Linked DNA regions of Homo sapiens. The protein of the gene in region 4 interacts with the protein of the main gene of each other region in a pairwise test. Each region holds a gene or a part of one and is shown on either strand. Other genes may lie near its edges.

Region 1 (3,500 bases), on a different chromosome or scaffold from region 4:
AGAAATGGACGTCTGATGAATACACTTTATCAACTATTACGACAACTGTATTTAGGCCAGCCATGTAAATTATCTTGACCCTGTATATGAGGGGTCCATAAATTATTAATAGTTTTAGGTTAAAACTAACAGGTTTTAGAAAATACCTCTCACAGCCTAAGTACTTTTTAGGTTACTAAAGGTCTATGACATTTTATATGTTTTTGTTAATAGGAAAGAACTTGTTGACATTTTCCAAGGTAACTGCTGAAAACTTATCACAAGGCTGCCTTAGTTAACCAATGACATCAGCAATATAATAACTAAGAAGCAGGTCAAATGTTCCCCAGTAAAAACCAGCTCACTCGGTCTGACAAACTCAATGTTACTTATTTAGGTAAAAAAATGTTTAAATATCATCTTTATAGAAAATTTTATTCGCTTCATTTTTATTAAAAGGTATCAGTATATATTTTCTGGAAACAGTGCCATTTTTTATAACATCATTAGGTACTGTGGTCTAAACATTCCTCTGTTGAAATGACATTAAAATGACACCTCCCTCAAAACCTAAGGAATCAAAAATTGTTGGTACAGTAGTTAAACTGAATAATCAAAAAATGTCAAAAATTAAAAACTTAGTAAGCATCTGAAAGCTAACATGAGACCAGAGTCCGTAAGACCTTGTGATCTGGATCCACAATTATGATGAGCACTTGTAAATATCCAGTGATGACGAAACTAAGTTACACTGACATCCCAAACTTGTGGATAACCACTGTCTTTAAATACCATTATCAAAATTTAGTGTTCAGTTCTAGCATGCCATTAATGAAAACCAAACGTATTAGTGGCTCATGTTGAAAAATGGGAATTTCTTATAGGAACATGTAAATCTCTTTAATATTAGTAGTGAAGAAAGATAGGCATGCATACTAGTTTCTCATTGTTCAACAGACCTGATAATTTGAATGAATGAATACAACTAGCATAAATAATTTAAAAGTGCAATACCCATTTTTTTTAGACTAGAGTAATAAAATCTATAAAATAATTCTAGGACTTTTCAAGAAGTCATGTTTTTTGAGTCCTGGTTCATTAATCTGGTTCGTTCTTTTTCATTGATAATTCACTGATAAATGGTTAGCCAAAAGTATGATAGATCATTTAAGAATAATTCGATGTTTAAGAGGCATATGAGTATATTTTCATAATACTCACAATCAAAGTAAGGAGGCAGCTCTGGGCTAAAAGTTATGAGAGAATCACTGAAGGAACCACAAAATCATGAACACAGGGACATCAAGAAAGAATGAGAGCAAAGACCAATTAAACAGACCTCCATGGCCTTAAGAAAAAACAAAGTGGCAAAAGGAGATTAAACTTTTCCCCTTCTGCTAAGAGTTCAGCATCATACATCAAGTTGACAGGTGGCAAATTTCACAGGGTTTTTATAAGAACACAGTCTTGACTACCTTTTCTCCTAAAATGCAGTTTGGAACTCCTTTTTTTCTTTACTATTTCAAATGTGTGGTGTTTTCCTTCTAATGAATAATGATGACGAACTCTGGAATTTGACAGGAATATAGTAGAGCTGGCACATTCATCTAAGATCCACTTAGTTTCTATAGTAATGGATGGACGTACTTGATAGTTATCAATGAAAACAAATATATGGTGATGAAAATTATTGGAGGATTAATAAAAGTAGATAAAATGCACCTTAAGAGACAAAATAGTAAGTTAGGGAAATAGCCTCTGGCGGGAATCTGAAGACAGGAGTTTTAAAGAATGACAACCAATTAGAATGAAGAAGTTCTATACCCTTTTAAACAAAGATAAACATACATAATGAGAGGAATATGATTAGATATTTAAATATTCTCTAGTATTTTTAATGACAACATGTTATATGGAAGAAGCATTGCCGCATTTTATTAGCAACTTTGATAAACTTCTAGTAAAAGTGAAAGTACCAGAAGTCCCTTAATATACATAAGCTGCTGTTTAATTTTGAAACCTCAGGCATGGAAACTTTAGTATGATTATGCTTTGTACAATTTTCCAACTATAGAACCTAAGGAATTGTTAAGAAGCAGTAAATAAATGACAAGCTCCCCATATTCAAGTTGTGGAATGATACAGTTAATCGTTCCTAGGTACCCTTACAAGCAGTGCTAGGGAAAGTGACATACCTCCAGCTGCTTACTAGCTTCTTCATTTCTCATTATCAGAGACAACTTAGTGCGCAGACTCCGAAAGTGCATGTCAATCAGCATATGTGCTCGCTTTGAGGTGACTTCATTGATGGACTAAATGATTTAAATTAACAACATTATTATCAAGGCAATTGCCCCAGATGAATTAAACTAAAAATAAACAACTCAAAAATGCTCACCAAAATGACAAGCTGATAATTTTCTGGATCATAAGTTACAGAAAAGGCACCAACTGCCTTTTTAAAATCCTTATGTGCCGCCTCTTTGGCACACCTAGAAATTTAAAAAAAAAAATTAAGATGAATAATTACCAACTACTGACATAAATAAATGCAGGCAGATTTACACATACAAGAATCATGGATTCATATTAAATTTGATTTATGCAAAATATGCTATATCCATTTAGAAGCTTAGCTCCTTTTCTGTACATTTCTGAAATACAGCTTAGATTACCAAAAGAGACATATTCAGGGGAACCACTCTACACTACAGGTTTCCTGATTTCAGTTACATACAAGTCAGTAGTTTTCTTAAGTCAACTATTGAAAACTTTTGGAGATAGCTACCTACAGGGTATCTGATTTCTTTCTTCTTCTCTTGTTGCAGGCCTTTTTTTTTCCTTTTTTTTTAATTTTTAGTTTTGTGGGTACATAGTAGGTATATATATTTATGGGGCATATGAGATGTTTTGATACAGGCATGCAATATGAAATAAGCACATCACGGAGAATGGGGTAAGAAACTGCTAAACGATTTGAGGGAGAGAAGGAAACGTACATGAACCAGAAGGCACAAAAATTTACACACATACACAATCTCTAGAAAAGGGAGGATTTCTATGTATTCTGAACTGCAATTTAATGTTCAACAACATGTCCAAATCAAACGTACTGTATTCACTTAATAAAATCTGTAAAAAATAAAAATGCGTCTCTTCTATAGTCTTTAAGCATTATTCCAGATCAAGGATTGTAAGATGAGATGACTTTTTAAAGCTTCTTTGGCTCTACTTATTACACATTTATCTGAAAACATTTTAGGTAAAAGAGAAAAAAACGGAGAAATCGTTTATAGTTTGTGACTTATGACAGAATTATCACATTTGTTTGATCAGTTTTTAAATCTTAGAATGAACAAAGTTAGTTTAGAAAACAAATGTACATTATGTACATCAGACACGTGTATAGCCAAGTAAGTTTAAACAAGCGCAAGGCTGCCTTGATTCTATAAGTAGGAAAAGTTAAATAAGTTTTTTCTCCATTGCTCTTGCAAACCAAACCATTTTTGCCAAAGTCCACC
Region 2 (3,500 bases), on a different chromosome or scaffold from region 4:
CGGTAGTGTGTGCCTGTAGTCCCAGCTATTCTGGAGGCAGAGGCAGGAGGTTGCTTGAGCCCAGGAGTTTCAGGCTATAGTGTTCTGTGATCCCACCTGTGAATAGTCCCAGCTATTCTGGAGGCTGAGGAAGAGGGTTGCTTGAGCCCGGGAGTTTCAGGCTATAGTATGCTGCGATCACACCTGTGAATAGTACTGCACTCCGGCCTGGGCAACAAAGTGAGACCCTGTCTCTAAAAAACAATCATAGTGATAATACAATATTTTTTTAAAAAAGGTAAGTTTAGCCCAGTAATAGTTAAGGTATTTCCCAAGGTTTCACAAATAGAGAGTTATAGGGGTAAATTCTAGTAAAGCTGTTTGTGACATGCCTTGTGAAAATTATTCAGTCACTTTTATAACCCCATGGAAAAATGTAGGTGGATATAAACCAATTTTTTTCTTTGCTCAGAGTGCATATAAATTATTATTCTTGGGCGTGTAAAAGTTTTTCTTATTGGGCAACAACAACAAAAAACAATATAAAAACAGTTGATTTACTGGTGTCACTGTGTTTCATTCATGCAGGAAACATGTTGAGTGCTTATTTTAATTTATTGATAGGGTTTCTCTGTCGCCCAGGCTAGGGTGCAGTGGTGCGATCACGGCTCACTGTAGCCTCGACCTCCTGGGCTCAAGTGATCCTCCCACTTTAGCCTCCCGAGCAACTGGGACCCCAAGTGTGTACCACCACACCTGGCTAATTTTTAAATTTTTTGTAGAGATGGGGGTCTCACTGTGTTGCCTTGGCTGGTCTTGAACTCGACTCAAGCAATCTTCCTGCTTCAGCCTCCCAGAGTGCTAGGATTACAGGTGTGAGCCATCATGCTGGGCTTTTTAGTGCTTACTATGTGGCAGCCTCTGCTAGATGCTAGGGATAGAACGATCTACCAAGAGACAGTATGTGTACATACCTTTAAGGAGCTTACAGTCTGGTAGGAAGCATAGGAGACTGTTACAATATAGGATAATAATAAGTGTGACGATGGGGTGAAGTGCATTGGTACTAAAGTAGCCTGAAGGGGAGCAACTAGCCAGGCCATGGAAGGGTCGGGGAAGATTTAACCAAGGGAAGTAACATACATGTTAGCACAGACCTTAAGGACAAGAAAGATGTGGGCAGTTGAGAGTCAGGAAGACAGGAGCTGGCACCTGTAAGTGCCTAGAACCAAAAGAATCATGAGTGTTTCAGAATTGCTGAAGCATAAAATGAGGGTGAAGAGAGGGGTCATGTGGTGAGAGGAGAAGTAGGAGCCAGAACACAAAGGCTCTTTTAAGACCGGTCAAGAGTTTTAGGGAGTGAGGGTTGGGGTAGGGCTTTGCTGCAATGTGAGAATAAATTTGTTAAGAGGCAAGGAGGTGTGGAAGATATCATAATTTATGGGAAAGGTGATGATTCTCACCAATCTAGAGTAGAGGTAATTAGGATGCAGAAGAGTGGAGGACATTTGCAGAGAACCCAGTTGAGCTTATCGATTGGATAAAGTTGGAGGAGGGAAGCATTAAGGAGAAAACCCTGGTTTCTGGCTTCTGAAACTAGGTAGATAGAAACTAGGTAAGTAGAGAAGGCCATGTGTTGGCTCACACCTGTAATCCCAGCACTTTGGGAGGCTGAGGCAGAAAGATCATTTGAGACCAGGAGTTCAAGATCAGCCTGGGCAGCATAGTGAAACCCTGTCTCAGGAAAAAAAAAAAAAAAAAAGCAAACAGAAACTAAGTAGGTAGGGTAGTAGTGAAAGGCAGAGGAGGATATGATTTTGATTTTTATTATTTTGGGAGGAGTGACGATGAGTCAAGTTTTAGACATGTTGATTTCAGTGTCTGTAAGACACCCAGTAGAGATGTCTAATGAAAAGTTGTGTGTGGACCTGAGAGAGATCTGTCTGGAAATATTTAAGAATCATCAACATTAAGATGTTATTTGTGGCTGTAGAAGTGGAATGAAATCATCTAGTAAGAGTGTGGACTGAGAAGAGGGCTAGGGATATCAAGATATAGCAGAAGAGGAGCTTCCAAATAGACTCAACGGGAGCATCAAAAATAGGAGGAAGCCCAGAACCATTCTGTGCCACAAAATCCAGCCCATGGAGAGACTAGTTTTAACCTTTTAAAGTCTCAAATTTAGAGTTTTAAAATGTTTTAATCGAAGAATGTAATGAATATAAGGCTAATTTAGCAGAAGGTAGGAGGTGGCCTAAATAAGCTTATTGATTTTTTTCTTAAGAGGGCAAATGGAACCTCTTCTAAGTGTGTGTGGTTTATAATGAGATATAATTTATGTATACATTTTAAACGTGCAATTTAGTGGTTTTTTTGGTGTATTTACAAGGCTGTGCAACCACCACCACTGTCTCCTTCCAAAACATTTTAGTCACCCGGTAAAGAAACTTCATAACCATTAGTCACTTCCCATTCCCTCCTTCCGCGTATTCTCAGCAACCACTAATCTACTTTCTGTCTCTATGGATTTGCCTTTTCCAGATATTTCATATAAATGGAATCATGCGATACTTGGCCTTCTGGATCTAGTTTCTTTCTCTTCGCATAATACTGTTCTGTCTCATCCATGTTGTAGCATGTATTTGTACTTCATTTCTTTTTAGAGCTGAATAATCTGTAATATGGATATACCACATTTTGTTTATCCATTTATCAGTTGATGGACATTTGGGTTGTTTCTGCTTTTTGGCTACTATGAATAATGCTGTTATGAACTCTCATGTACAAGTTTTTGTGTGAACATCTGTTCTTGGATATTTAGGAGTAGAATTGCCGTATGTTTAACTTTTTGAGGAACTGCTTTCCAAAGTGGCTGTGCCATGTTACCGTCCTAGCAGCAGTGGATGAGGGTTCTAATTTCTCCACATTTTTGCCAACAGTTAATTTTTTATTTTTATTTATTTATTTTTTTATTTTTTTGAGACAGAGTCTGGCTCTGTCACCCAGGCTGGTGTGCAGTAGCGCAATCTCAGCCTCACTGCAACCTCCACCTCCCGGGTTCAAGCCATCCTTCCACCTCAGCCTCCCCAGTAGCTGGGACTACAAGTGCTCGCCACCATGCCTGGCTGATTTTTTGTATTTTTGGTAGAGACGATTTGCCGTGTTTCTACCTGGTCTCATGCGTTCGAGACCAGCCTAGGCAACATGGCAAAACCCTGTCTCTAGCAAAAGTATTAAAAAATCAGCCAGACGTGGTGGTGCATGCCTGTGGTCCCAGCTACCCAGCAGGCTGAAGCAGGAACGCCACTGCACTCCAGCCTTGGTGACAGATCGGGACCCCGTCTTAAAAAAAAAAAGAAAAGACAGATAGATGACTGTGGTTCTAAGGTTTATGTATTCCAACTATTTTGTGAATGGTTGTGGAGTTTAAATGTAATGATTGAGTAATAGTATCATAAATACTGTTCCTTAGCAGAGTGGAAAGTGTAAAGAATAGAGCAGAAGATTTACGGAGGAGGACA
Region 3 (2,207 bases), on a different chromosome or scaffold from region 4:
GTCAGCAGCCATCAACATTGAGGCAAAACTCTTCACTAGCCAAGAGTACAACTTGCCTAAGGCTCGGATGATCGTTAGCATTCTTTAGCAATAAATTATTTTTAATTAAGATATGTACACTGTTGGGCCGGGCACAGTGGCTCACGCCTGTAATCCCAGCCCTTTGGGAGGCTGAGGCAAGCAGATCACGGGGTCAGGAGATTGAGACCGTCCTGGCTAACACAGTGAAGCCCCGTCTCTAGTAAAAATACAAAAAATGGCCATGTGGGGTGGCACATGCCTGTAGTCCCAACTACTCGGGAGACTGAGGCAGGAGAATTGCTTGAATACACGAGGCAGAGGTTGCAGTGAGCTGAGATCGTGCCACTGCACTCCAGCCTGGGCGACAGAGCGAGACTCTGTGTCAAAAAAAAAAAAACAAAAAAAACCCACTGTTTTAGACATAATGCTATTGTACACTTAATACAGTGTAAACATAACTCACATGCAGTGAGACACTAAAACGTGTATGACTCATTTTATTGCAAAGTTCGCTTTACTGTGGTGGTCTGGAACTGAACCTGCGACGTTCCTGAGGTATGCCTGCACTTACTAGTGAGCTTCCCGTGGAGGCGTGAAGTGCCTCTTCCCGGAACTGCCGGGCATATTATCCTCCCCCTTTCCTCCACTTAAAAAGCAGCTTTGCCTGGCCAGGCTTGCAGTTCCTTAAGGATAGACTGGTCTTCTCTAGCTTGACATGCAGTCGATCCATCCCTCTAGCTCCGAGGTTCGGAAACTTCAGTGCGCACAGCAATCACCCAGAGGCCTTGCTGAAAAGGTTGCTGGGCCTCACCCCCAGGATTTCTGATTCAAGGTGGACCCCAAGAATCTACATTTCTAACAAGTTCCCAGATGATAGCTGATGCTGCTGGTCTGGGGACTACACTTTGACCACCGATCTAGTTTAGCTTCTCCCAAAGACTTTCCTGGGCAAAACCAGCTTTCTCAGAGTAGCTGTGTGGATCCAGGTCACACCTACCGCCTGTCTGCCCAGGTCCCTCAGAGCTAGGACTCAGCTGACACCTGGGATGAGGCAATGCCTAGTAAAATAAAACACCAAGACACCAGGATCTTGTTAGCTGGATATATTTCTGTTTTTTCTTTTTTTTTCTTTTTTTTTTTTTTTTTTTTGTCACAGAACACTGTTTGCAGTAGAGGAAACTGGCATTGCAGTCTGGTGGTATAATGGCTTGTCCACATAAACCAGTACATGTTCATCCTTTAGCGCAAAAAGCCCTAATGGCGCGTACCCTATTAAAATTCAGGACATCTCCAATATTCTCTCTCTCTGTTTTTCTTTGTCATCTTTTTTTTTTTTAAATAAACATTTTCAAGGTTTGTCCAAAAGAAGGCCATATAGGTTCTTGGCTAGCGGAAGACAATTCAGAACAGCTGTTGCACACTTGGACTGTCACCTTCTCCAGGCTGGCAGTTGATATCTTATTTTTTTTCCAACTCATTTTTATTAAAAAAATAAAAAAATGCTCCAACTATCAGCTTTACAAAATCTCTAAGGGAAACACAAGAGCAAGGTGCTGAGGTAAAAACACCTGAGGTAGCTTCTTCTGTGTGTTTTTCTCGTTAAAAAAATCTGTGAATTTAACGCCCTGGGCCAACAACCTTGGTAAATTTCTACTTTCCTCCACATTTTTTTTTTTTAAAGAAAGGAATCATTTTGCTGAATATTGATGGCTTATACACCAAAATGCAAAAAGACAAAATACATTCTTTCATTGTGGAATTTTTTCTTTGTTTGGTTGATTGGTTGGTTTGGTGGGTTCCTGTTTTCCTCTTCCAAAACGCTAGGACAAGTACCATTGACTCTTGTTCTTTTGAGTAACCAAGTGTAAGTTGAGGCTGGTTTGTGTGTTTCGCTTTTGTTCCTTTTGTGTGATGTGATACTCAGAGCACTGCTTTGCCTGGGGGGGGGGGGGTGCGTAGATACGGGATTGAGATGGAGGGATGAGGAAATTCAAAAGAATGGAGATGGAGAAGAAGGGGAGGGGAGGGAGGGGAGAGATAAACAGAGAGAGACAGAGAATTATATAGCAGTATGCAAAAAACCAGTTTAAAACCTGTGAAGCAAAGAGAAATGGGTGTATGAGCTAGACAGGCATGAGGAGTGACAGAGTTTCCTCTTCAAGGAGACGGTATCCCTTCTGTTGACA
Region 4 (3,500 bases):
TCACCCAGGCTGGAGTACAGTGGTGCACTCAGAGCTCACTGCAGCCTTGACCTCCTCCCAGGCTCAAGTGATCCTCTCACCTCAGCTTCCTGAGTAGCTGGGACTACAGGCATGTACCACCATGCCCGGCTATTTGTTTTTTAGATGGAGTCTCGCTCTGTCACCCAAGCTGAAGTGCGGTGGCGCAATCTCGGCTCACTGCAACCTCCACCTCCCAGGTTCAGGCAATTCTCCTGCCTCAGCCTCCTGAGTAACTGGGACTACAGGCATATTTTTCAGTAGAGACAGGGTTTCACCATGTTGGTCAGACTGGTCTTAAACTCTTGACCTCAAATGATCTGTCCACCTTGGCCTCCCAAAGTGCTGGGATTACAGGTGTGAGCCACCGTGCCCGGCCCCATGCCCAGCTAATTTTTAAAAGTTTTTGTGGAGATGGGGTTTTACCATGTTGCCTATGCTAGTCTCAAACTCCTGGGATAAAGCAATCCTCCCACCTTGACCTCCCAAAGTGCTGGGATTACAGGCGTGAGGTACGGCACCCAACCCAGTTTTCAGAGCATGTTAAATAACCACACACACACACACACACACACACACACACACACACACACACACACACAAAATCCCAGAGGCTTAATAAAGTATGGACCTAATAAAGTACTTTTTTAAGTACTTTAAATGAGTGTGCCTATTATATGCTAGGAACCATATTCAGTGGTAGAAAATAATAAACAAAACATAAAAATTCCTGCCAAAAAGAAGTTTATGTTATAGTGGGAAGACAGCAAATACATATACACACAAACACACAATTTTTTTTTTTTTTTAATGGAGTCTTGTTCTGTCTCCCAAGCTAGAGGGCAGTGGCGTGATCTCGGCTCACTGCAAGCTCTGCCTCCTGGGTTCAAGCCATTCTCCTGCCTCAGCCTCCCAAGTAACTGGGATTACAGGCACGCAACACCACACTAGGCTAATTTTTCTATTTTTAGTAGAGACGGGGTTTCACCATATTGGCAGGGCCAGTCTCGAACTCCTGACCTCAAGTGATCTGCCTGCTTCAGCCTCCCAAAGTGCTGCGACTACAGGTGTGAGCCACTGCGCCCGGCATTATCAATAAATAATTAAATACATGATGTCAGATGCTGGCTAAGAACTATGGGATGAGGAGAAGGGGTACTGCAACCGTAAGTGGGGTATATGGTTTCACCGAGAATGTGACATCAGAGCAAACACTAACATCAGCAAAGGAGTATCTCAGAAAAGAGCATTTTAGGCACAGGAAGGAAGAAATACAAAGGGCTATGGGCCTGTAGCTGGCGTTTTCAAGGGACCACAGAGTGAGGGGAGAAGGAGAGACCAGGTGGTGGTGAGAGAACTGGCATCAGAGGAAGTAGGAATCTGTGGGTTACTCAAAGGACCTCGGCCTTTACAATGAGTAACATGGCAAAGTTTTTTTAATATTGTTTAAGCCCAAGAAAGATACTAATTTACACAGTAAGATTTATACTAAAAAAAAAAACAAACTATGACAGTTACTATAAAAGAGTAGCTCACCAGTTCAAGTTGAAATGAATTAAAAGGGGCTGGGCACAGTGGCTCACGCCTGTAATCTCAGCACTTTGGGAGGCTGAGACGGGCAGACCACTTGAGGTCAGGAGTTCGAGAGCAGCCTGGCCAACATGGTGAAACATCAACTCTAGTAAAAATCCAAATATTAGCCAGGCATAGTGGCGCTTGCCTGTAATTCCAGCTACTCGGGAGCCAAGATTGCCCCACTATACTCCAGCCTGAGTGACAGAGCAAGACTCCATCTCCGGGAAAAAAAAAAAAAAAAAAAAAGAAGAATTAAAAGGAAGGATGGAAGAAACAAGTTTCTGACACCACCTATTAACAGCTGTGTAATCCGGTACAAGTCATTAATGCCTTTGGCCTTTCTCTTCTCATTTATAAATAGACTGATCAAGACGTGCAAATTGTCAATTTTTCTTTTAAAAAACAAACAAAACCCCACAGGTGTAGTTTTTAAAACAATGAAAGTCTAATTTCTCTGACTGCAGGGAAGTTAAGGCCTGTCCCTGCCCTCCCATTCACTGCCTCTGACCTTGAAAAATCTTCCAGAACACAGACTGAAAACCTGTAGACTTCAGAACTGCACACAGTCTCTGTAGCCCTACAAGTCTATAATCTCGTTTACTCTACATTATTCAGACTGAGTATCCATCAGTCCTACTGATCATTACTCTTCAACTCCAAATCATAATCTCAAAATTTAGAGTGATGTTTGTATCACTCTTCAGGATGGCCTTCATTCTTTATCATCTTTAAGCTTTCTGTATTGTATTTAAAACCTGTAAAATGTATGCCAAAATACTTAACACTTTCTAACTGTTCTCCTTCATGAGTAGATTAAAATATCCTACTCCTATCTCATAATTCTAAACTTACATGACAACTGACAAATATGAAAAATAGGTATATTCAAACTGACCTCACATTTGAATGATTAAGTAGACATCTTTGCCTAAAAACAACTTTTAAATTACACTGTCACAGATGAAAGACAAAAAGAAATTATGAAAACAGAATTTGTAAAGCAATACATCATTTACCTCATTGGCACCACTGAACAGAGGTTCTCCAGTGTGCATTTCAACCAAAATACACCCGAGGGACCACATATCAATGGCAAGGTCATAAGGCATTCCCAGTAGCACCTCTGGAGACCGATAAAAGCGACTCTGAATATACTGGTATATCTGAAATATATTTCAAAATAGTATTACTTCAATTGCTTAAAACTGCAGTCAGCATTGGATTAAAAACATTGATCTGATATTAACAGAAAAGAATTGGCTAATTCCTGAATTAGGGTTCCATTGATTAACTTCAACATTAGACTACGAATACGGCTTAAAGAACTAAACATTTTGAGGGATTGGTTAATCTGACTGTGAAATGCATAATACGTAAAGATTCAAGCCCTTTCATTTAGTCTAATCCTACCTAGTCATCATGATATTTCTTAAAACAATTATGCCTCACTAGGAAAAAAAAAACACTATTGAAAGCAATGTATTTCCCTAATAATTATTTCTTCCTACTATGGCTGGCACTTAGTTTACCACTAACTTTACAACTAAATAGTATTTAAATTAACCCAAACAATGTATTTCTCAGCGTTAAAAGTCAAGTAACTTCAATATAATATAATTTAAAATTCAGATATTTGTACTCTTGCTGTCTCACAGATAAATCCCAGAAACACTGCCACATAAAGATTCAATTGAGAGCTGTCTCTGACCAATAGCTTCTTCTCTCATCTTCTCTCTCTACCTCCATCCAAGACTTCTTATAGAAAGACAATCCTGAAATGGACTATTTTCAATGAAGTAATGTTAGGATGTCTTCAGAGACCAATTTGTTTCACTTATTAAAAGTGGAAAAGAAATAAAATCCTAACTAAATTTCCTAACACCCAAACCATGCAGCCAGAAAGCTCA
Region 5 (3,500 bases), on a different chromosome or scaffold from region 4:
TCTGGAAGAACAACAGGGAAGACATCCATCATTTGCTCCAAAGTGTGCAAGTCAAATCCTGGGGAGAATCATGATAACCCTGATCACTGAGCAGCTACAGAAGCAGACTCTGGATGAGCTGAAATGCACACGCTTCAGCATCAGTCTGGTAAAAGACCAGTCTTCCTGCTTCTCCACGACCCCCTCCCCCTTTTTTCTGAGGCTGATTGTTGCTATTACTTTACTCTTGTCCTGTGCTGTATGAATCATGGTACTTAACCTGGAAGAGCCCACTAATGGCTCAAAACCCAGCCCAAAAGGAAGGGGGCAGGGATTTTTCCACCGATAGAGAAGGGACAGCAAAACTTGGGTGGAGAAGGGTTTGAGATGTTGGAAGATGTGGATTGTTTGACTTACTAACTTTGGGAAGACAAGAGGAAGAACACTTAATGTCCCTAACATCCCTGTAGCTCATGAATCGCAGAGGAGAACTGAAGAGGGCTTCCTAGAAATCTGTCAGTGTGTCCTGAATCCAAATCATGATGGATATTCTCTCTTTCTTAGCCTTTGCCTGATCATGCAGACATCTCCAACTGTGGGAACTCTTTCCAGCTTGTGTCTGGTAAGGCATCGTGTGTGTTTGTGTACGTGTGTGTACCCATTCCTCTCTCCACACATTTCTATCATTGGTTTCCAGTGACCAGGGCTAGCGAGCCTACCTCTAGAACCTTCTTGCCAGGGTCAACTTCTGAGATTGACAGTTGTCTTTCATGTTCTAGCATGAAAGTTATCTGGTTGGTTTGCTCTTATTCTAGCTTTGTGGGGACTTGTATAATCTAATTTTTTGAATAGGTAATACATTCACATGGTTCAAAATTTAAAAAATAACAACAAAAAGGTTATGCTGAGAAAAGTCTCTCTTACTCTCCCGTTCCCTATCTACCCAGCTTCTACCACCTCCCTAAAAGTATTAGTTTCTTATACAGTATATGTGACTAGAATTTCTTTATATAAAAAGAAGCAAATGTATATATTTATTTCCTTTCTTTTTTAAGTTCTCGGATACATGTGCAGAACGTGCAGGTTCGTTACATAGGTGTACATGTGCCATGGTGGTTAGCTGCATCTATTTTATTTCCACGTTTTTAACACAAAAGGTTGCATACTATATATTATTTTGTACCTTTAAAAAAAAAAATGGGACCGGGCCTAGTGGGTCACACCTATAATCCCAGCACTTTGGGAGGCCAAGGTGGGCAGATCACCTGAGGTCGGGAGTTCAAGACCAGCCTGACCAACATGGAGAAACCCCATCTCTACTAAAAATATAAAATTAGCCAGGCGTCGTGGCGCATGCCTGTAATCCCAGCTACTCGGGAGGCTGAGGCAGGAGAATCACTTGAACCCAGGAGGTAGAGGTTGCGGTGAGCCAAGATTGCGCCATTGCACTCTAGCCTGGGCAACAAGAGCAAAACTCTGTCTCAAAAAAAAAAAAAAATTGCTGGGCACAGTGGCTCATGCCTGTAATCCTAGCACTTTGGGAGGCCGAGGTGGGCGGATCATGAGGTCAGGAGTTCGAGACCAGCCTGGCCAACACAGTGAAACCCTGTCTCTACTAAAAATACAAAAATTAGCCTGGCATGGTGGTACACACCTGTAATCCCAGCTACTCGGGAGGGCAAGGCAGGAGAATCACTTGAACCCAGGAGGTGGAGGTTGTGGTGAGCCCAGATCATGCCACTGCACTCCAGCCTGCACAACAAAGCAAGACTCCATCTCAAAAAAAAAAAAAACAAAAAACAAAAAAAACTTTAATATAGCTAGGAGATCTTTCCCTATCAGAATGCTGAGTATTCATTCCCTTGTTATATATAGCTACATATTATTACACTGCATAGATGTACAGTGGCTTATTTAATGAGTTTTCTATTGATGTGCATTTAGGTTATTTCTAATCTTGTTTGGATACATAAAACTGTAGTGGGCCAGACGTGGTGACTCATGCCTGTAATCCCAGCACTTTGGGAGGCCGAGGTGGGCAGATAGCATGAAGCCAGGAGTTCGAGACCAGCCTGGCCAGCATGGTGAAACCCCGTCTCTATTAAAAATACAAAAATTAGCTGGGCATGGTGGCAGGCGCCTGTAATCCCAGCTACTCAGGAGGCTGAGGCAGGAGAATCCCTGGAATCCAGGAGGCGGAGGTTGCAGTGAGCCGAGATCGCACCCACTGCACTCCAGCTTGGGCAACAGAGCGAGATTCCATCTCAAAAAAAAAAAAAAGAAAGAAAAAAGAAACTGTAGTGAATAACCTTGTACATATGTCATTTTTTCACATGTGAAAATATATCTGAGGTATAAATTCGTAGATTATTAATTACTGAGTTAAAGGGCCCCTGATCGTAGGGACATTTAGATGGAGGCATCACTGGTGGACAATCAGAACTCCCTAACTCGTGCTGCTCAGCAGTTCTGCATCTCATTTTCTTTTCTGGGATACCTAGCAAGGGAAGTGAGTTGGCAAAAACATGTTCATTCAGTCTCTTCCTCCTGTTTATTAAAGACTTGCTGAAAGCCAGGTATTGTGTCATAAGTATAGAGCAGGAACTCATGGTCCCTGCCCTCATAGTGGTTAGTAGAGGGAAGAACTATAGACCAAATACACTCAGTATGAATTTTGCCACCATCAAGTCTGACTTCGTATACTTGTCGTTTGCCCCAAATATCCAGCCCCTGCAGAATTCCAGCCAGCTAGCCAGAGGAGTTTGGATTAGGCCCTTTGTCCCTTAATGAGCCGTCTCCCAAAAGTCACAATTTTGGTTGGAATACAGTGAGTGAGGATTGTTTCTTTTAGTCCATTTTCCCTTCCTTCTCTTGGTCCCTCCATCTGTTTGGATTTAAGAGAAGGCCTAGGGGAAGGGAATCGGAATATGTGGGTGGCCAGACAGAAACGAAGATGAGCAGCACAAAGTCAGGGTTTCCCAAGCCCAGGTTTCACTGTCAAAGGCCTTCCCCACCCTGTTTGCCCTCCCTAGGAATAAAAGTGATCTCTTACCTGCCTGATTACCTCTTACTTCTTGGCAGTCCTAACTCCTGACTTGGTGCTGTTGACACATGAGAGGAGGAAAGGCCGAGAAAGAAGAGCATAGGCCTGCTTTTCAGCATCCAGGGCAAGCGTGGGGGAGGGGCGAGGGAGAGATGAGCAGGACACTCACAAACGTGTTTGTTTCTCTTGACTTCTTTTACCTTTGAGAGGGAGTGGCAGGCAGTAGATGAAATGTTTTTGATTCCAGGTAGTTGGTCACAATGGAGGCAATAGAGCATAGTGGTTTAAAAACCTAGCCTTCGCATCAGACAGACCTGGATTTGAATCCTCCTTTGGTCTTTTGAGTGCTATGTGATTTTGGGAAAGTTATTGAATTTCTCTTATCTGTGAAATGGGGATAATGATAACGATACTACCTACCTCATAAGGTTTTTGGAAATTTTCACATAAAATGCTCCATACATTATGTGGCAAATGG
Region 6 (4,055 bases), on a different chromosome or scaffold from region 4:
AAGGGAAAGAGCCATGTCTCCAAAATGCTTCAGAGGCTAAAACAGTCTATAAACATTCTGTAAAGCGACATACTACACACATGATCTCGGAGACGAGAAATCCCCGTCCTTAAGTAGTACGAATCTTCCTGTCTTCATCTTTTGGTGGTTGTAAGCAAAAATGTACCCAGGAGGAGTGGGGTGGAAAGCGGGGAGACAAAGGTGCTGACTGCAGGAACCTGTAGAACTTCGGAGTGACTCAAAGGCACTTCTGGGCCAGAGAGGCCCCAGCGTTTACGCACGCGTTCCAATACCCCTGGCGAGCTCACAGGGCAGAGGCAAATTCCTCTCCACTCGGCCGCGCCCACGGCCTCCCAACCCCGGACAGAGAAGGAAAGGAGGGACCCCCGCGTGTCCGCAGCTGCTTTCGCCTCTCCTGCTCCTGGAGGGGTGGGGGAATCATCCGCTGCTTCCCAAGCCCTGCAAACCCCCCAAACTGCTTGTTGGGACCCATTTCCCGTAGGAGCAATTTGACCCGCTCGGACCGAGGACATTCAGCTGTGAGCTTTCGAGAGATTTTGTAACCAATAACCATAATCCCGCGGCAGAGGCCACAGAAAAGCTTTCAATTCCTGCCCAGCATCATCAACACACACACCCCCGCCATAAACTTAAAAGCAAGGATTAAAGACCGGAACACCACGCCACACGGCAGGGGGTAAGCACCAGAGGACAAGAAGTTCTCAGCTGAGTCTCTCCACCCAATAACGGAGTGAGAACAGAATCGGGGCAAACAGAAGCAGCAGCTCACCTTTGCCTTTTTGGGACCGAGTGCTCAACTTCTATGGGTTTCCCGTGCAGTTCTATTTTACCTGCGGACACACAAGAAGTGAGACGGTCGGCCGAGTTCAGCGGCTCTCCCTGCCCGAAGACCCGCACAGCCCAAGCGGCGACACAAATGGCCTCCTGAGGCCCTCGAAGGGCCCCCGAGGCCCGGACGCGGCTCCAGGCGGAGGGAGAAGCCGACCCCCTCGAGCGGCGTGGGCATTTAACTCGCAGATGGTTGGGGAGCAGGGTCCGCTGGCGGGCCCACTACTTGGGTATCAGTCCAGTCTCCAAGCCTCCCCCACCCACCCCTGGGGGCCACCAACACCACGAGGCCCGCAAGAGGGACGCGGCCCACCCTCTCACCGCCCTGGACACGCTCCACAGGGCAGACTCGGGGCAGGGGGCTCCCCTGGCTTTCTTCAGGAGGGGGCGCCCTGGCCCTGCCCTCTGCTTCAGCCCAGACCCGCCGGGAACACTCAGCGGTGGGCTTGAGGAAGACAGGGAGTGGCGAGAAAGGGTCGGGGACGGCAGGGGAGACCACGAACGGGAGAACTGGCAGAGGCGCAGCTCGGCACAGGCTGAACCAGGCGCGAAGGACGGCGAGGCGCCCGCACCACGTCTGAATTGATTAAAAGGGAAGCCGAAAGGCACGGGGCTCCCATGGGGACCCCAACGCAGCCTTCCCCCTGGGCGTCCTGCTCCGCCCGGCACCGTCCCTCGCCCTGGCGGAGCCATACCCGGAGGCCGCAGCCCCGCGCCAGGGCCCGGAGAGCGGCGGGCGGCCGGTGCGTGGCGGCGACTCCCTTCCAGGCGACCAGCCGCCCCCGCCCACCTGCCCCTATCGCTCGTCGGACCAGGGGAGGTGGAACGGGGAAACCGGGCACACACTCTCTCCTCCCACAGGGTGGGGAGGAAGCGCGGGGCCGCCTGTGCGAGGCACCAGCCTCGCGGTCTCACTCGGCAGCACGGTCGAGGCCACTTTCCGTTCTCCACGGCCGGGGGTTTCGGGGCGCAGCACAGACAGCGCCGTAAATAACGACCGAGGAAAGCAGGAAGGAACGAGGCACAGGCGGGCATTCTAGCTCGGCCCCCGAGGCCCAGCGTGCCGGGGCCTGGAGCACGCGCCTGGGCCCGGGCGGGGCGCCGGGGGAGCGCGCCTCCCCCAGCCCCGCGCCCCCCTTAGCCAGCGCCGGGGCTTTCTTGACAGCGCGTTCGCCCTCACCCAGCAAACCCCGGCCGGGGAAGCAGAGCCGCGGGCCGGAGTGGGAGCCGGAGCTGAGGAGAGCCCCGGCCCCCACGCGCGTGGGTGTGGGCGCTCAGGCCTCACCCCCGCTCCCCCAGCGCGCCGGGCCTGGGGCCCGCGGAGCCACCCGGTGGGCCTGGGCGGGCGGTGCAGGGCTGGGGCGAGAGCCCGGGTGGGGCCAGGCCCGGGCCCACCTGAAAGCGCCTCGATGGCCTTGAGGGCCCAGCTCTCGTCCGGGCAGTCCACGAACGCGTAGCCAGTCTTCACCAGGAAGGGTCCCGACACCGGGATCTTGGCGTCCTTGAAGATACTTTCTAGGTCCGAGGGGGCGGCGTTCTCGCTGAGGTTTCCGATATACAGTTTGTTCATTGTGAAGAGTGGTTGTTTAAAAAAAAATAACGAGAAAAAACGAAAAATTAAAACCACCCACGGTGATGGATGGATCCAGCTGGTTTTGTTCCCCTCGTCTTCTCGCCTTTAAAATACACAAACACAGTAAGAACCAAGCACAAGAACGAGGAGTGAAAAATCAGATCCGAGGCTTGTTTTTTCCTTGTCTAGATGTGTTTTAAAAGAGAAAGAAAAGAAAAAGCCTAGCTACAACCCAAACGCATCCACCAGTCTTCCTAAGTCTTAGGAGGAGGCGGGATTAGCAAGAGAAAGGAGGAGGAGGAGGGGAAAAAACTACTTTTTGTCTCTTCCTTCCCAACCCCTTTGGCTTCGGCCAGCGGACTGTGAAAATATCACACTACGTGAGGCAGGCGCCGCCTCCCCATAAAAAACCCAGAAGGGTGACTGGCAGGAGGGAGGGGAGAGGAGGAGGAGGAGGAGGGAGGAAGGCGCAGGAGGCGGAAAAAATCCGCTCCGAGTGTCCGGCTTTTTGAATGAGCCACGTGTTCAAACTACAAATCAACGTCTCACGTGAGGAATCCCAGAGCCTCAATTAGAGTGGGTTTCGGAGAAAAAAGCGAGCGAGAGGAAGAGGGGGAGGGGAAACGAGATTGGGAGAGGGACTCTGAGAAGGGGGAGGAGGAAGAAGGAAAATGCTAAAGGAACCGCAGCCGGCACCAAGCGGGGCGCTGACGGTCACAACTCGAGTTTGTAAAGGGTTATCTGGTCTGGGCGGATCCTGGGAGGGAGGGCTGGAATATTGATTTTTTTTTTTTTAATGAGGAAATGGGCAGAGGTACTAACAGGCAGTTCCTCAGCGCTAGTTACCGTAGTTTTAATCATTCGATTTTTCAAAATAGGTTATTAACAACAAAACCAGAGTCACAATCCCGAACTCGCCTGGTGGCTTTAATGGCATTAGAAGTGTAACCCCAGCAAAGCCGCAGGCACGTTTCTAAGGCTGGCATGGACGGAAATGCTGCGAGGAGGGGTGGGGGAGTGGGTGAGGGGGGCAGGGGGTGGGGGCAAGACAGGCGGGCGACGCGCCCCACCCCGTGCGCCCTTCTCGGGCCCTGGGCACCGCGCGAGTGGGGGCGGCCCGGCCCCGGAGTGGTGGGGGATGGGATCCCGCAGCGTCCTGGGCGGGTGTCTGGGCGACACCTCCTCCGCCTCCGCCTGCGCTCGCGGTGGCTCTCGGCTTCGCGTTTGCCATTGGTTGCGCGATTCAGAAAAGGCTCCAGGATAAATGAGGCCGGGGGCGGGCTTGGCCACTGGTGGGGGAGGGGAGTGCAGGGGCGGAGGTTTCTGGCTAGGGGCTGGGGTCGTCGGGGGCCTGGGCCGCTGGAGGAGAGAAGTCAAAGTGGGAAAAGTCGGTAAAGGGAAACCCTCTCTTCCTGTAGTTTTTAAAGGGGGAGGAGTGGAGTAGGCTGGTACTTTTATTTAAGTAATTTTAGTTGGAGAACTTGAGACTTAAAACTGGAAGACCGTCGTGCATTACCCCTAGGTGGTATTCGCATTTGAAAAATTGTTCGAGTCTCTTTCTGCCTCTTTTCTGCCTGGATTTGGCCATGAGAGCCATACATAATTTTCTCTATATGTAATGAGTACAATGGTG
Region 7 (4,219 bases), on a different chromosome or scaffold from region 4:
TGAAAACGGAATCAGAGGTGGACCCCAAACCCTCAGGCCTCACCACCAACCCCATCTCCCCCAGTAGGATCCCTTGCCTCATCATGAGGTACCTCTTCTCCCAGAGCCCAGCTTTGTCCCTGGAAGGAGCTCCCAGAAGCACCGACTATCAGCCCCTCAAGGGCACTCACCAGAGCCTGTAGCCTCTGGGGGCACAATGTCCGGCCTCGAGGTCCTGGTCCCTCCAGCCTAGAGAAGCAGGAAGCCCTGGCAGGGTCCAGTCGGTGGGTGGGGGTTCTGGGGGCCAAATATGCAGAGGCCCGAACACCCTGGGACACCAACAGAGGCTGTCAGCACTGCTCAGGATGCCCCCCTCAGTGCCCCCTAGCCTGGTCTCCTCACATCCTGTTTCATTACCTGGACCCTCTGGGTGGTGCCTCCCTGACTTCCTCGAACCAGTACTCTTTTAGCCAGACTAGGCTGGCGCCCCAGGTGACAGCTCTTCACACCCTCACCTGACAGGATGGTGGCCAGGGCTGCAGGGTCAGCCACAAACTCTATGGTCCCTGGAGCCTCTGCAAGGAAAGAGGAGAAGGAAAAGGAAGGGGGAAGGCTGAGGGGGATAGGGCCCCTAGCATAGGAACTTTGAGGTACAAGGTGAGCAAGAGACTCATTCAATTGAATTTGGCTTATTTTTTTTTTTTTTTTTAAGAAATAGATGGCTGGGTGCAGTGGCTCATGCCTGTAATCCCAGCACTTTGGGAGGCCGAGGCGGGTGGATCACCTGTGGTCAGGAGTTTGAGACCAACCCGGCCAACATAGCAAAACCCTGTCTCCACTAAAAAAATACAAAAATTGGCTGGGTGCGGTAGCTCACTCCTGTAATCCCAGCACTTTGGGAGGCTGAGGCAGGTGGATCACCTGAGGTCAGGAGTTTGAGACCAGCCTGGCCAACATGGTAAAACCCCATCTCTACAAAAAACAAAAACAAAAAAAAATTAGCTGGACCTGGTGGCGCGCGCCTGTAGTACCAGCTACTCAGGAGGCTGAGGCTGGAGAATCACTTGAACCTGGGAGGTGGAGGTTGCAATGAGCCAAGATCGTGCCACTGCACTCCAGCTTAGTGACAGAGTGAGACTCTGTCTCAAAAAAAAAAAAAAAAAAAAGAAAGAAAACAAAAATTAGCTGGGTGTGGTGGCAGGTGCTGGTAATCCCAGGTACTCGGGGTGAGGCATGAGAATCGCTTGAACCTGGGAGGTGGATGTTGCAGTGAGCCGAGATCATGCCACTGTACTCTAGCCTGAGGGATAGAGTAAGACTCTGTCTCCACAAAAAAAAAAGAAAAGAAAAAAAAAAAGAGAAAAAGAGATGGGGTCTCACTATGTTGCCTAGGCTGGTCTCAAACTCCTGAGCTCAAATGATCCTCCTGCCTCGGAGGAGTGTTGGAATTACAGGCGTGAGCCACCACACCTGGTCACCAAATGTTCATAGAATGTTACATAAGACACTATTCTAAGCACTGGGGTCCCATAAGAATAAGACAAAGCCCCTATCCTCAAGAGGCTATCATCAAACTATAGACAGGTAACAGACTCAAGCCAAGGTATATACATGTTATAAAAGAAGTGCTGCAAAGTATTAGGAGAACACAGAGCAACTGATTGTGACATGGGGAACTGGAAAAGGCTTCAGAAGAAGTGATATTTATTATTTATTTATTTATTTATTTTTTAAAGAGATGGGATCTCCCTCTGTCATCCAGGCTGGTCTCCAACTCCTGGCCTCCAGTGATCCTCCTGCTTCAGCCTCCTGAGTAGCTGTGATTACAGGTACAAGCCATGGCACCTGGCGAGATGACATTTTGCTGGAGGAAAGGGAGATCTTCTAAGAGCAAAGAGCTTTCCAGGAGCTGGGACCAGGACTATCACAGTAAGTAGGAGACAGCAGGAGTGAGTGCAAAACCCCAAAACCCCACTTTTACCCTTCCTAGTCCCCTACTCAGCCATGGAGGCCGTGTTACCATGGCTCCAACAGGTACCTGTCTGGGCAGGGGGCCCAGGCCCCACATTTTGACCCCTAGGGCTAGGCCTGAGCTCTTCCAAGGGGTTCCGAGGCTGACTGATCCCCACCAATCTTTGTGATGTCTCTGCCTGGTGCCTGGCTTTCGGCCTGGGGCCTGCTGAATCAACGAGGGGGCGTTGAATATTGAGCGGTGGTTTCTGCACCCATCTCTAGGGGAGGGAGCGGGGACAAAAAGGTGAGGTTTAGTGTTGGGGTGCATTACTGGTGTGACTACTGTCTTCCCCCATTAGGCCCCTCTTACCCTTGGATCTTGGTTCTCCTGGTCCACGGCGCACGATGTAACAGTGGGGAAAGGCGTGCGTTTCTGAGAGCGTACCGGAATCTTGCTAGGGGTAGGAGATACACCCCGGAGGAGGGGATCCTTCGTGGCTTGCCGGGTGGTCATGATGGCTACAATTGAGACGGGGAAGAAGGCAGGCAGAATCTAAGATCAAAGATCAACCAGTTCTCGGGGCACCTGTCCTGCCATCCCTGATACCTCCGCCCTAATCCACGCGCCCACAAGCCCCCGGCGCCTGCAAGACCGCTCTTATGGGTGCTATCTCCAGACACCCCGAGCCTACTCTTTCGCCCTCGGGCCCCAAACTGCCCTCCTCCCTATGAACCCAGCAGCCTTCGTTCCCTTCAAGACCCCCGTGCCTTACCTTACCGAGGCCCCTCAGGGCCTACCCAGCTTCCTCCGCTTTTCTCCTGACCCTCTCGGGTGCTGCTGGAGCTACTTTCTCAGTTTGTAAAATACGCCAAGCTCTTGATTGGCCCGGTCGCGCTCCCGCGGAGGCCCGCGTAGCCAGACTCAGCCGTCCAATCCGCGGGCATCGCAGGAGGGGCCAAAAGAAGGACCAATTGTCGAACCGCTTTCTGGCGAGGAAAAAAACTGACTCGGATCAATCAGCCAATCCGAGAGTGGAGCGCCGCTGGGAGGCGGGGAAAGAGGAAGGATGGGGCCGTTCCGAGGCCGGGGAAGGCGTAGCCACGGGAGCTCTCGCGAGGCCTCAGGACCGGCTAGGGGCCGGCCATTGGCAGGACCGGGCGAGGTCGCGGTACTGAGGGTACAGTTGATCGTTCCGATTGCTGCCAACGGTGTTGAAGGCTGGCCCGAGCCCCCGACCCGGCTTGACCATAGCACGGCGCCAAGCTTTGGGGACGCCATTCCAGATGCCCATAGAAAATATCTGCGTCCGGGCGCGGTGGCAGGCGCCTGTAATCCCAACACTTTGGGACGCCGAGGCGGGAGGATCTCTTGAGCTGAGTTTGAGACCAGCCTGGGCAACATAGCGAGACCACTCCCACCCGTTTCTCTACAAAATAATAAAATAATAATAATAATCCCTGTGCAGTGGTGCGCGCTTGTAGTCCCAGCCGCTCTGGAGGCTGAGGCAGGAGGATCGTGTTGAGCCCAGGAGGTTGAGGCTGTAGTGAGCTGTGGTCGCGCCACTGCACTCCAGCCTGGGCAACAGAGACCCTGTCTTAAAAAAAATAAAGAGGGAAAGAGAGAACATCTGTACGTTGTCTCCGGGATAAGGAACTGCCTTCAAACGGGCGGAGAGGGCTGGAGGGAATCGAACTGAGCCTAACAATATGTGTGCTCCTTGGAGCCTCACAATCCAGTGAGGTGTCTGATGAGGTGTCTTTCATTTTACGGGTAGGTAACAAGACTCATTGTTTTTGAACTCAGTTACCACAGCACCAGAATTGAATGGCTACTCACAGCTGGGGATTTCCTTGCCTCCAGGTTGCCTTTTGCAGATCTAGAGGTCTGGGGAGAGGGGGCTCACCTGCTGGTTATTGGTGGGCAAGGCTGTGAGACTGAGAGATCCTAGAATATCCTGCTTAAGATGGAAGGGGTAACCCCTAACGGGGGACAGGAAATGAACAACACTTAACAGAACTCTGGTGGATTTTCCCCACCAATCACAGAAGTTATTCTTACACAAGCCAGAAACCGAGGAGTTACTCCTTAACTCCTCCCACTCCCTTTACATATCCCATCTCTCATTCACTCTCACTAGTTTTACTATTTATGCATTTTTGGGACAGGGTCTCACTCTGTCGCCCAGGCTGGAGTGCAGTGGTGCGATCTCAGCTCACCGCAGCCTCGGCCTCCTGAGGTGGGAACCTCAGCCTCTCAAGTAGCTGGGACTACAGGTGCCTGCCACCA

What was found.
Region 1: the proteins of DYRK1A (region 4) and FMR1 interact in binary tests that used the Homo sapiens proteins (3 or more experiments, as listed by UniProt).
Region 2: the proteins of DYRK1A (region 4) and PRDM4 interact in a two-hybrid assay, tested with the Homo sapiens proteins (one large-scale study listed by BioGRID and IntAct).
Region 3: the proteins of DYRK1A (region 4) and IGF2BP2 interact in binary tests that used the Homo sapiens proteins (3 or more experiments, as listed by UniProt).
Region 5: the proteins of DYRK1A (region 4) and FAM53C interact in binary tests that used the Homo sapiens proteins (3 or more experiments, as listed by UniProt).
Region 6: the proteins of DYRK1A (region 4) and IGF2BP3 interact in binary tests that used the Homo sapiens proteins (3 or more experiments, as listed by UniProt).
Region 7: the proteins of DYRK1A (region 4) and TROAP interact in binary tests that used the Homo sapiens proteins (3 or more experiments, as listed by UniProt).

What each region holds. Positions count from the first base shown.
Region 1 is NC_000023.11:147,928,919-147,932,418, reverse strand, and holds part of FMR1 (fragile X messenger ribonucleoprotein 1), read right to left. Parts: intron 2,472-3,500; coding exon 2,378-2,471; intron 2,292-2,377; coding exon 2,175-2,291; intron 1-2,174.
Region 2 is NC_000012.12:107,747,638-107,751,137, reverse strand, and holds part of PRDM4 (PR domain zinc finger protein 4), read left to right. Parts: intron 1-3,500. UniProt on the Homo sapiens protein: May function as a transcription factor involved in cell differentiation.
Region 3 is NC_000003.12:185,642,630-185,644,836, forward strand, and holds the end of IGF2BP2 (insulin-like growth factor 2 mRNA-binding protein 2), read right to left. Parts: 3' UTR 501-2,207; downstream 1-500.
Region 4 is NC_000021.9:37,492,273-37,495,772, reverse strand, and holds part of DYRK1A (dual specificity tyrosine-phosphorylation-regulated kinase 1A), read right to left. Parts: intron 2,757-3,500; coding exon 2,610-2,756; intron 1-2,609. UniProt on the Homo sapiens protein: Dual-specificity kinase which possesses both serine/threonine and tyrosine kinase activities. Exhibits a substrate preference for proline at position P+1 and arginine at position P-3.
Region 5 is NC_000005.10:138,341,266-138,344,765, forward strand, and holds part of FAM53C (protein FAM53C), read left to right. Parts: 5' UTR 1-70; coding exon 71-148; intron 149-543; coding exon 544-601; intron 602-3,500.
Region 6 is NC_000007.14:23,467,692-23,471,746, forward strand, and holds the start of IGF2BP3 (insulin-like growth factor 2 mRNA-binding protein 3), read right to left. Parts: upstream 2,801-4,055; 5' UTR 2,420-2,800; coding exon 2,245-2,419; intron 1,957-2,244; exon of another isoform or gene 1,885-1,956; coding exon of another isoform or gene 1,545-1,884; intron 852-1,544; coding exon 791-851; intron 1-790. UniProt on the Homo sapiens protein: RNA-binding factor that may recruit target transcripts to cytoplasmic protein-RNA complexes (mRNPs). This transcript 'caging' into mRNPs allows mRNA transport and transient storage.
Region 7 is NC_000012.12:49,321,836-49,326,054, reverse strand, and holds the start of TROAP (tastin), read right to left. Parts: upstream 2,801-4,219; 5' UTR 2,706-2,800; intron 2,452-2,705; 5' UTR 2,447-2,451; coding exon 2,303-2,446; intron 2,211-2,302; coding exon 2,018-2,210; intron 1,909-2,017; exon of another isoform or gene 1,901-1,908; coding exon of another isoform or gene 1,781-1,900; exon of another isoform or gene 1,667-1,780; intron 1,564-1,666; exon of another isoform or gene 1,479-1,563; intron 555-1,478; coding exon 397-554; intron 309-396; coding exon 171-308; intron 1-170. UniProt on the Homo sapiens protein: Could be involved with bystin and trophinin in a cell adhesion molecule complex that mediates an initial attachment of the blastocyst to uterine epithelial cells at the time of the embryo implantation.